Linked DNA regions of Homo sapiens. The protein of the gene in region 1 purifies or fractionates together with the protein of each later gene. This does not show direct contact. Each region holds a gene or a part of one and is shown in the gene's direction. Other genes may lie near its edges.

Region 1 (3,500 bases):
AAGGCAAGGGCTGGAGGCAGCGGAAGTGCTGGGAGCCTCCAGACCAGCTGGGATCTGCCTGAAACTGAAAAGAAGTGCTCACTTCTTCCTCTGTAATAACAGACACATTGCCCAATCCTATAGCAAGAACCAGGCTTCTGTTTAGAAAGTGAAGGACCTGGCTGGGCGCAGTGGTTCACGTCTGTAATCCCAGCACTTTGGGAGGCCAAGGCAGGCGGATCACCTGAGGTCAGGAGTTTGAGACCAGCCTGGCCAACATGGCGAAACCCCGTCTCTACTAAAAAGTACAAAAAATTAGCCGGACATGGTGGCATGTGCCTGTAGTCCCAGCTACTCTGGAGGCTGAGGCAGGAGAATCGCTTGAACCCGGGAGGCAGAGGTTGTACTGAGCTGCACTCCACTGCATTCCAGCTTGGGTGACAGAGCAAGACTCCATCTCAAAAAGAAAAGAAAAGATAAGAAAGTGAAGGACGTTTTGTGTCCTAGACCCTTTTTCGAAAGGGAGTTTATCCAGGAATTAGTAGAATTCCTGAACTGGATTCATAAAACTAAGTAGCCTTACTCTGCATTGTCTACAGGGCAAAGTTGTACCCATGTTTCTTTCAGGATGTGCACTGGGTACCTAAAAGGCCAGTGTGACATACCCCACACCTAACAGTATGCATGTCATTTCATATCATTTCTATTTCAGTGCAATTTCTGATGGCTGCTATGTGTCTGACACTGTGCCATGATCTGTAGGAGAAACAAGTGAACAGGGGACAATCTCAGCCTTTAGGAACACAGGGGAGCACTCAAGGCCAAATAAAATCAGTGCCCTCGTGGAGCTTCTCGCAGGGTGTTTGGGAGCAGAGGATGGAGCACCAACTACTAGTTCTGCTCAGTAACACCCTCCATTTGCATAGCACCTAACTGACTTCCAGAGTCTCTGTAGAAACCTTAACTCATCTGGAGTTATCAGGGAGCTGCAAAAGGGTTGGGACTATCGAGCCGGCTTTTGATGACCAAGAAGAATTCCTAGGCCAAGGGAAGCAGGTGAGCCAAGGTGCAGCTTTACTGCGGGGGTCCCACTCCCTGAGGCAGCATTTATCCCATGAGTGTTTGCATGATGAATTAAGGCCCCACAGACCTGCTAGTGGACTCTGTGATGAAAATAGTGTGTGGCCAGGCTCCACATGGGCAACTAGCGACCCCTTGGTGAGATTATGACACCTCTCGCTTCCCCCTGTGTAACCAGGGAAGCTAAGCATGTTTCTTTCACTTCACCCATCTTCCTACATTTTTTCCTTCCTAGTTTCAGAAACAACTCTCCAAGTTCCATTTCCAAGGAAAGTCTTAACCATTTGTCCCTTCTGGCGTACCCTCTTTCATTGAAATCCATGCAGAATATACCAGGTACTCTGTCTTTGTGTGTGTGTGAAGCCATAAAATCTAATGTTACGTGTGCGGTGGTGCTGTGAGGTATGCTTCTCGTGCAAGCGGCTCCCTCAGCCCTGCTGTGGTAAAGACCAAGTATAAATTGTCGCTAACAGGGTTTTCTCATTAGAGTCGTGTGCCTGAGTGTCCCCTGTGAATTATAATGCCTCCAGCCCTCTTGCTGCTCCTCTGCTCTGCCTGTCTTTTGGCTGTTTTGCTTGTCCTGGGGCCCTCCATCAAAGTGTGGACAGGGGAAGGAGAAAGAGCTGAAACCCAAATCTGTTTCCTCTGCACTGGGCCTGCGGTGCCGATGAGAAAATAGATGCAGACACGGGTTGCCACTGGACTGCATTCAAGGTCAGCGCAAGAGAGAGAGACAATGGTTCCTCCTTCTCAGCCTGCTGCCCCGATGGCCAGCACCCCCTCCCTGAGCTCCTGAAGATGAGTGACCCTGTGTTTTATTTCTGCTGAATTTCTCACCATGTTATACATTTGGGCAGCTTTTTTCCTTTTAATTTACCTTGGTGAGGGTGGGTGTTGAGGTGCTGATTTTTTTTTTTTTTTTTTTTTTTTTTTTTTTTTTTTTTTTTTTTTTTTTTTTTTGAGACGGAATCTTGCTCTGTCACCCAGGCTGGAGTGCAATGGCGTGATCTCGGCTCACTGCAACCTCTGCCTCCCAGGTTCAAGCGATTCTCCTGCCTCAGCCTCCCGAGTAGCTGGCACTACAGGCACCCGCCACCACACCCAGCTAATTTTTGTATTTTTAGTAGAGACAGGTTTCACCATGTTGGCCACGATGGTCTCGAACTTCTGACCTCAAGTGATCTGCCTACCTCGGCATCCCAAAGCGCTGGGATTACAGGCGTGAGCCATGGTGCCTAGCCAGATGTTTAATTCTTTCAATTCATAGGGTGTTGCAGTCCCCAGATATATCTTGTGTTTGAAGCTCTTGGCTAGAGTTATATTTTGAGATGCTCTGTGGATTTCTTTTATCTGTGTGTTTATCTGTTCCCCATTCTAAACTATAATTTAAAATGTGCTGTCATCAGATCCCCAAAATGGATGGAAGAATGCGCCTAAATTGAGCTGTCAGGCACTTGGCTGCGTAACCATGCTTTCTGGATTGTGGTGTTGAAAGTGCCATCCTGTGTGCTCTCTCCGGATGGCTGTCACGTACTTGCGTCTGAGAACAGTGTATGGACCTGCATGAGCACTAATCAGTCTTCCTAGCAGACTTGCTCTTTCTCTGGTCGTATGCCGCCAGATCCTCTGAGAAGAGAGTGGGCCTTTCCCCTCAATGGGCAAAGAACCAGCTTCCATTTTAAAAGCTCTCAGAAAAAAAAGAAAGAAAAAAAAAAAAAAACACCAACAACCAAGAGCCTGTGTTTATTGAAGGTTGGTCTAAAAGTCTCTCACATCGTATGCCCCATCAGCACTCGAGTGCCTCTATTTTAGAAGGATGTAAAGGTTTAATCACGCTGGTGGGGATTTAGACCCAGAGACTTCGGAGAAATCTTATTATTTCTAACTGCAGGCAAAGAGTATTAAAGCTCCACTCTGGATCAGGGGCATGACATGTTCTATAAGTAATTTATCTTTAACAGGGAAAGGCCCATACTAGAGTGTCTTAGAAACAGGACTGTGATTGGGCACTGGTTCACTGTTCCTCCTTTTCTCTTTCCTATCTCAGTGTCCTGCTTATTCTTTCCATCCGGACTTTTTCTGCCCAATCTGTGCAGTGTCTGAATGCCTGCCTCACAAATCCTCCTTTTAAGATTGGGAGCCAGGTGCTTGCCAATGAAAGATAATAAGGTTTTTTGCAATAAGTGACCTCATCCAGCAGCCTGGCACAGACCTGTCAACTGCCGACTTCTGAATGGGCACTACCTGCAGCCCTTCCGATGGAGGAGCTATGGGAGGAGAGGATGCCGTAGGCTCCATAGGCACTCAAGTCCGTGCTCTTGGACATGAAGTAATTTGGGGCTATTTTGAACCCCAGCCCTATTGCTACCTTCACAGAGGCTGTCTCCACTCCAGGCCATTTGTGCCCTGTGTGCATCCATAGCGATGTTGCTGAGCCTATG
Region 2 (3,500 bases), on another chromosome or scaffold:
GGGGCTGTGCTTTGGGGAAGGAGCTACAGAGGGCAGGGCCTGGCAGCAGCACCAGACCATTCCTGGGCAGGAGTCAGCTAAAGCTTCATGCCAGGATGGTCAGGAGATTCCAGGCAGGGAGTTGTGGGTCAGGGAGAGCAGGTGCTAGGGGCCACAGCCCTGTAGAGGGCGGGTGCAGCAGGGTAGGAGAGCTGATGGCTCCAGGTGGCTGGAGTCAGGAGCATGACCGGCACTGGGGCAGGCAGCGTGGCTGTCTCCTGAGGCTGCTGAGTGAGCCCCCATGGGGGTAGCGGCAGCCAGCGAGGAAGCTGGCCTGTCATCCAGGTGAGCTGGGCTTTGACTGGAGTGTCCAGCTATGGAAAGGGGGCTGACACCTGTGCTTCCTCTCCAGGCCTCTCAGGAACCTGGAGCTCCTCGGCCAACAGCATCCTCCACATCGACCCCAAGACGGGTGTGGCTGTGGCCCGGGCCGTGGGATCCGTGACGGTTTACTATGAGGTCGCTGGGCACCTGAGGACCTACAAGGAGGTGGGCTCTAAGCAGCCGGAGGCACATGTGGCTCAGTGGCCTGTGAGGCGGGCCTGACCTTCTGGGAGGATTATGAAGACTTTTCCTTTTAGGGAAAAGCCGTCTGAGGGGTTGGGTCTGGGAGTCATGAGTCTGGGACTGGCCACTTGCTGACTCTGACATGGGGACAAGCTCCCTTTTTTTTCCAGGCTTCAGTCTCCCCATGTTCAAGAGGGTGTGATGAGGACAGGCAGCCTTGTAGGGTGGATTCCAGCTCCCATGGGCTTGGGTCTGGCAACCCCGGAGTGGGCACTTCCTGGGAGCCGGTGCTTCCCTGTCACCTGCAAGGCTAAGACTCCCTGTGCAAGTCACCCTTTGAGTCTGGAGGCGACAAAACCTGCTGTCTCTTCCATTCATCTCCAGTTGAGAATGAATCAGTGGGGCAAGTCTGGCTGAGATCCAAATGCATCTCATTTTTAGAGGCAGCATGTGCTTTATGGAACCTAGCAGTTTAACCTAATTGTTTGCATATTTAGTGCTGCGGCTCTGCAGTTTGGGCGAGCCAGTTGCAGACAGAGGCATCCTGTGACAATACAGCTGTGCTCTCCTGGAAAGAGCCTCTGGTCAGGGGATGGGGTGGCATGGACAAAGGTGTGTAGGGTTCAAGGGCAGAGCCTCGGGGGCTGGAACAGAGGGTGTGGGAGAAGCATGGTCTGGCTTTGTGATCAGATCAGAAAATGCACCAGATTCCAGGCAGTTTGGTGCAGGTTGAGGGTGGGGCATCTACAGCTAGACGGTCTAGGTCAAATCCCAGCTTGGCCACTGCGAGGCTATGACTGAGCAATCATTGAGTCTCGCTATGTCCCGATTTTCTTGCCTGTATAATGGGGATGATAGCGTTGTGAGGATTTAGTGAGTTAGCACGTCAGAAGCCCCTAGGGTGGTGCTCAGCTCATAGCCAGTGCTCAGCAGAAATTAGCTGCTGCTGCTGCTGCTGTTCCAGGGTGAAGGGGTAGAAGCTTATGCCACACTCAGTGGAGTTTTTTAAACAGTGCTATAGACCAAGGCTGTGTTTGCAGAGGTTACCTGGCACCTGGAGGAGCTCGAGAGAGCAGTCGCTACAGGGTAACTGGCCAGAGACTGAGGCCAGGCCCTCAGCTGGGATCACTGGGTGTGGCAGAATCTAAAGGCAGGTTTGGGAGAGACGGGAGGGAGGGAGGCACATCAGAGCTCCATGAGCATCCAGAAGTGAGGCTGGAGGGGAGGAAGGGCTTGGGATGACCAGGCTGCTACTGGTCCTTTGCTGAGAGGGGCACACAGAGGTAGGTAGGCCTGCAGGGAGGTGAGGAGCCTGGGCCGGGGAGCTAGAGATGTCACAGCTCTCCCAGGTGAGGCAGGAGGCACACCTGGGTGGGTGCGGCAGGAGCACTGTGAGGAAGGCTGGACAGGGTGGGGGCCTCAGCCCAGAAGTGGCCTCTGAAGCCCTGGGAGTGGGTGGGAGTGCACGGGCACTCCAGGAGTGCAGGCAGGAGAGGGGCCAGGAAGCCTTGGGCACTCTCTGAGGGTGGACAGGGAGGAAGGGGAGAGGAGGGCCAGCGTTGGGGGGTCCCAGGCTAGAGAGTGGGACACAGCCTCTGTCAGTCCCTGGAGGTGGATGGTGGTAAGCCCTGAGCGGAGGCACCGTGAGTTTGACAGTGATGCCTGGTCACCTACAGCTCTGCATGGGCCACATCCCTGGGAGCTGCAGGGGCTTCAATCGCATCCCTGCTCTGAAGTTCACCTACTGGTAGAAATCAGATCTCCTGGAGGCAGGGAGCGCTGGTGCCTGCTGAGAGAGGGAGGGGGGCCTTCAGCTGCAGGAAGTGGCCTTGGGCCTGAAGGGTGGATGAGGCTGGGCTCTGCAGAGAAGATGGGAGGGTGTCCTAGCCAAGGGAGTGCAGGGAGGTCTCCAGCCTGGGGCTGTTTGGGTGTGGCCAGGTACAGGATGGGCACAGGGGGAACAGCTGGGAAAATCTGGGCAGACTGGATTCTGGGTGGGGTGTGGTGCTGTACTACAGAGAAGTGATCATGGCTGTCCGAACAGCCAAAATCCTCAGCCCACCCAGATCGATTAATGAATTCAGGCCCGCTGCTCAGCGTCCAGTCAGCTGCTGGGGGAAGCAGCTTGTTCAATGGGAGAACTGGGCTGTGAAGTCTGACCAGACTGGGCTCAAACCCCCTCTCTGCCACATTCTAGCAAGGCGTTTAGGCTTTGAGCCTCAGTGTTGCCACCTGTGAAACGGGTGACACTATGTCACAGACTGCAGGGTGAGGTTGTGGAAACGCCCAGCATGGACCGGGACACAGGCGGCGCTCCATGAAGCTTCCTTGGCTCCCTCTCTAGGTGGTGGTCAGCGTCCCTCAGAGGATCATGGCCCGTCACCTCCACCCCATCCAGACCAGCTTCCAGGAGGCTACAGCCTCCAAAGTGATTGTTGCCGTGGGAGACAGAAGCTCTAACCTGAGAGGTACTTAATGAGGGGCTTGGGCTGTCTTCAGAGTACCTGGGAGCGGGGAGGTGGCTTCCTGTGTCCTCTGGATGGAGTTTATCTGCTTCTCCTATTCACACTCACACCAACTCCAGAGAGGGCATTTAGCCCCCACTCATCCACTCCTTCCAGCGTTTCTGAAATTGGAGTCCTCCAAAAGCTGAGCCAGTGAAAGGAATCTTCATAATGGAGCCCAGCTCCCAGAAGGTGCCTGTTCTGCACTGGAAATGTGACTTCAGCCCGAGGGCACCCTAGCAAAGAAAGCCACAATTTCCCACCGTGAATCCCAGAAACTAATGAATTAGCAGGACTCGTCACTGGTTTTAATTTTTGTAATGACCTCTCCCAGGTCATGCATAGAATGTTGAACCCCATCCCCTGCCCATGACAGCCCTGAACAGCAGCTGCCAGAAATAAGTAAGTCAACAGGGCTGTTTTCTTAAACCACCTCACTGGCAGAGTGAA
Region 3 (4,053 bases), on another chromosome or scaffold:
AGAAGGGGAATGATTGCTGCCATTTTGCAAACAGTCTATCATGTGCAAAACAAGGCCAAGAACAAACTTTCAAGGTGATACTTCATTCTTAGATTTCCAAGATGCTAGAGCCAGAAGTCCTAGTTGAGTCCCTGTTTCTCCACGTTTCAGGCCTCAGTTTCCCCATCTAATAAATGAGGATAACATCCATTTCACAGGGTTGATCCAGGATCAACAGGGGCTAAAAATTATAAATAAATGTTGGTAATGATGCTTCCACAACTGTACAATGGGTTCACAACTTCTCAACCTACTTGCTCATCTCCACACACAGCGTTTCTGCGAGTACAGAGGGCTCACTATTGATAGTGGTCCAAGAGGGGATTTTAGGTGTCACAGGAACAGCACCTTGAATACGATTGACTTATGTGTGTGATTCACCTTCCCTCTGTCATTCTCTTTCAGTCTTTCCTCTTAGGAGAAGTCTCAGCTTAATGCCAATGCCTTCCCCTTTTGCTAATTATTTTATTTTTTGTAAAGAGGGGGTGTGTCACTTTGTGGCCGAGGCTGCTCTTGAACTCCTGTCCTCAAGGGATCCTCCTGCCTCAGCCTCCCAAGGTGCTGGGATTACAGGCATGAGCCATGGAATGCCACCAGTGCCAATTTGTCTTTGACACCTCTCTCAACCCATGCTAACCATCTCCCTCAGAGTTTTTGGCCCTATTTAGAATTGAATAATGCTTTATTTTCAATTTTTACATTTGCTTTCTATTAATGACAAATGATACGTTAAAAAATATATAAGCAAGCACTAATAGTTTAAAAAACAATGCTAAGTATATAATAAAACGTGGTTCATTCATTCTTGCGTTCAACAAATATTCGTCCAATAAATATATGTAGAGCATCTCCTATGGGCCAGGATCTTGCCAAAGGCACATCTGCGAACCAAGGAAACCCCTGCCCTCGGGGAGCTTGCATTCTAGGCGTGGGAGTCGTGATGGTGGTCGGAGAAGGACTGGATTTGGGGATTTGCTTCTTGCGGGGGACACAGGCCTGCCCGTGGGGCCCGCCTCCCGCGCGGAGAGCGCTGAGGGGTCCGGAGTGACCTGTAGGCTGAGACCCTGGCTTCCCCTTGCCTAGAGGCCGGGCAGGAGGCGCGGAGCCCGAGGTCGCGGGGCTGAGGGCGCGGGGCGGGCCCGGCGGGGCTCGGCTGCGGCCCGGGCTGTGTCTGCGGCCCCGGCGGCCGCGCCCCTCCTCCCTTTCCCTCCGGCGGAGGCTGACGTGGAGTCAACAGCGCTGGCGGCCGCGAGAGGCGGCGGCGCAGCGGCTCGGAGGCGCCGGGCCCTCTCGGGGCCGCGCGGGGCCCGGGCGGCGGCGGCGACGCGACGTCGCGAGGAGGAGGAGGCGGCGGGGGTCCAGGAGGCCGGCCAGCGCATGGAGGAGGAGGCCATGAACGGCGACCGGACTGAGAGCGACTGGCAGGGGCTGGTGAGCGAGGTGAGGCCGCGGCGCCGGCCAGGCGGGATGGGCCGGGCCGAGCGGCCGCCAGCCCCGGGCCCGCGCCCCCAGAGAGGCCGAGCTGGGAGGGACGAGAGGGGGGCGCGCACTCCAAGTGGCCGCGGCTGCCGCACCCGCGCGACCCCGCCAGGTGCGCCGCTCCTCCTGCACTTTCGGGTCTGCGCGGGCGCCACTTTCTTCCGCGCCATCTGGTGTCAGCCTTTGGGGAGGGGCCTTCCCCCCAAGGCAGGGGTTGGCCCTGGATTGGAGGCTGAAGCCCTGGGATCCGGGAGCAGAAGGTGCCAAGCCCCACCTGCCTGCCCGCTCGCCACTGTTGTGGAGCCAAACAATTGGACGCCTGGGACTGAAACGGGAAGGTGGTGCCATGGGGGAGAATCCGAGCCCTGGGGTGGAACCTGGGCCAGGTGGAATTACCTGCGGCGGTGGTTCGAGTTGGGGGAGTTCGGGGGTCCGCTGCAGCCGTTCACTCATTCACTTGCTCAATTCAATCAACACGTGTTTACTGCAGGCCTACCATGTGTAAGGTGGGGAGGGGCATTTATCGAAAAAGTGAAACACAGGTGCAGAAGTGATTCGATTTGTGGAAGCACAGAACACCGTGTCCCCCTGCCCTGCGACTCTTTTGTCATAAACATACCCTGGGGGTCCACTTTCAGGATCCTATGCTGTTTGCTCTTCAGTTCCCCCTAAGAGTTTGCCGGCCTGCCGGGAGAAGCTGCCGGCCTCTCCAGGTGAGAGGGAATGCGGATTTCTCCCTCTCACCTGGAGGCAACCAGGTAAGTTGCCCTGGTTTGCCACCATTTGTGGGGGCAATTCCTGGTGTTACTTACCCATGCCGGGGAATTTCTCCCTTCTGAGAACCAAGCTCCAGCCAAGGCCAACTTGGGGCTTCCTTTTCTTTAATCCTGTGCACACAATGCAGAGTGTATCGGTTTGCTCTTTTCCTTTCCTTGTGGGTTATGGGAAGGGAAACCCTCTACTCCCTCACTCCTTTCATCGTTTTCTGGGTCTCCAGGTCAGTCTGATAATAGTGCTTCATGCCCAGTGTGTGCAGAGCGTTGTGTTTCTGAAGAGGAATGACATGCGGTAGCTCCTGCCCTAGTTTAGTTTGCTCAGCATTGGTCTAGTAGTTGAAAGCTCTCCTAACTGTCTGGTGTTATGATCCATTGTATTGCAGCCTGGCTCCATCTTCTCAAACTGTCAGGCTTTATGTTAAGGGGCAGATCCTCTGGGGACCTTGTTTCTGGTCCCATCAAGAATCATACTTAGTAGTCAAGGAGGCTGGAGGTAGTTCTCCTTAGAAGTCCAGTGTTAGGCCCTTAAATAGCAGCAGAATCTTCACTACTCCAACAATTGCATATCAGGTGCCTGTTAGGAGTCAGTACATTGTGAGGTGCTTGGGATTCAGTGGTGAATAAGACAAAGAACTCCCCTACCCTCAAAGAACTCCTGGGGGTTTCATGATATAGTCTGGGAGGAAGGTCATACCGTAGACAGTGAGAGTGAACTAAAGGATGGAAAGGCTTCAAGTGCTAAATGGCATGGGGTGCCCCTCAGTTGGCTGGGCTTAACCTTCACCTTGCCCTGACCACATTATTGTAACAATAGGCTTCCTCACTAGGCCGTGTGCTTTGTTTGGTTCTTTATTCCAGGGCCTATACACAGAGCTCTGTATGCAGCAGGTGCTCGAAAAATGCTTGTTGAATAAGTCAGTGAATCCTGAAGTAGGTCCTTCAGGAGTTTTCCTGCCCATCCCAGCAGAGTTTCTCCAGAGTAATACCTCCTTAACTTCACAAACATGAGGTGGGCACGTAGCCAGGGGCCATGGGGGAGGTGAAAATGGGTCTAACTTACTTCCCACCTTAATAATAACTAATGACTATTTTTTGAGTGCATCCTTCATATTAAGCATTTTACATGGCCTCATATTCACAATGACATAAGGTAGGAATTCTTTCTTATTTTACAGATAAGGAAACAGTGGCTCAGACAGGCTAAGGAACTTGCACAGAGCCTCACATCTGGTAAGTGGAAGAGGCAGGATTTGAATCCTGGTCTGTCTGACTCATTGCTTGAGCCTTGCTTGTCTGAGCCTTGCTAGGCCACACTTGCTATTTTAATCATTGCTCATCTGTCTGTATCTTCTGCTAGATGGCAGGCTTCCCAAGGAAGGAGACCATGTCTGATTCAACTTTGAGTCCGCAGCAAATGGCTTGGTGTTTCTTAGAGTATGGCCTACAGATCACCTGCATCAGAGTCATTTTGGGTGCCTGTGAAAAATTCAAGTTTATGGGTCTCTCCCAAATTTACTGTAGTGAGTTGAATTATGTATCCTGCTCCCCCCACCTCCCCACCATAGCTGCATCCGAGACCTAACCCCAGTAGCTGCAAATGTGACTTTATTTGGAAATAGGGCCTTTGCAGATATGATCAAGTTAAGGATCTTTAGATGAGATCACCCTGGATTTAGGGTAGGTCCTAAATCTAATGACTGATACCTTAGAAGAGAAAGGACAGAGATTTAAGCCACAGACACACAAGGGAGCAGGCTAT

What was found. The genes of interacting proteins can lie anywhere in the genome.
Region 2: the proteins of MKNK1 (region 1) and NUP210 purify together in Homo sapiens (affinity purification with mass spectrometry; one large-scale study listed by BioGRID and IntAct). This does not show direct contact.
Region 3: the proteins of MKNK1 (region 1) and CCDC149 purify together in Homo sapiens (affinity purification with mass spectrometry; one large-scale study listed by BioGRID and IntAct). This does not show direct contact.

What each region holds. Positions count from the first base shown.
Region 1 is NC_000001.11:46,583,769-46,587,268, reverse strand, and holds part of MKNK1 (MAP kinase-interacting serine/threonine-protein kinase 1), read left to right. Parts: exon of another isoform or gene 1-1,035; intron 1,036-1,294; exon of another isoform or gene 1,295-1,379; coding exon of another isoform or gene 1,380-1,395; exon of another isoform or gene 1,396-1,773; intron 1,774-2,221; exon of another isoform or gene 2,222-2,610; intron 2,611-2,616; exon of another isoform or gene 2,617-2,670; coding exon of another isoform or gene 2,671-2,811; intron 2,812-3,500. UniProt on the Homo sapiens protein: May play a role in the response to environmental stress and cytokines. Appears to regulate translation by phosphorylating EIF4E, thus increasing the affinity of this protein for the 7-methylguanosine-containing mRNA cap.
Region 2 is NC_000003.12:13,322,823-13,326,322, reverse strand, and holds part of NUP210 (nuclear pore membrane glycoprotein 210 precursor), read left to right. Parts: intron 1-391; coding exon 392-528; intron 529-2,890; coding exon 2,891-3,014; intron 3,015-3,500. UniProt on the Homo sapiens protein: Nucleoporin essential for nuclear pore assembly and fusion, nuclear pore spacing, as well as structural integrity.
Region 3 is NC_000004.12:24,910,243-24,914,295, reverse strand, and holds the start of CCDC149 (coiled-coil domain-containing protein 149), read left to right. Parts: upstream 1-1,253; 5' UTR 1,254-1,431; coding exon 1,432-1,479; intron 1,480-3,469; exon of another isoform or gene 3,470-3,524; intron 3,525-4,053.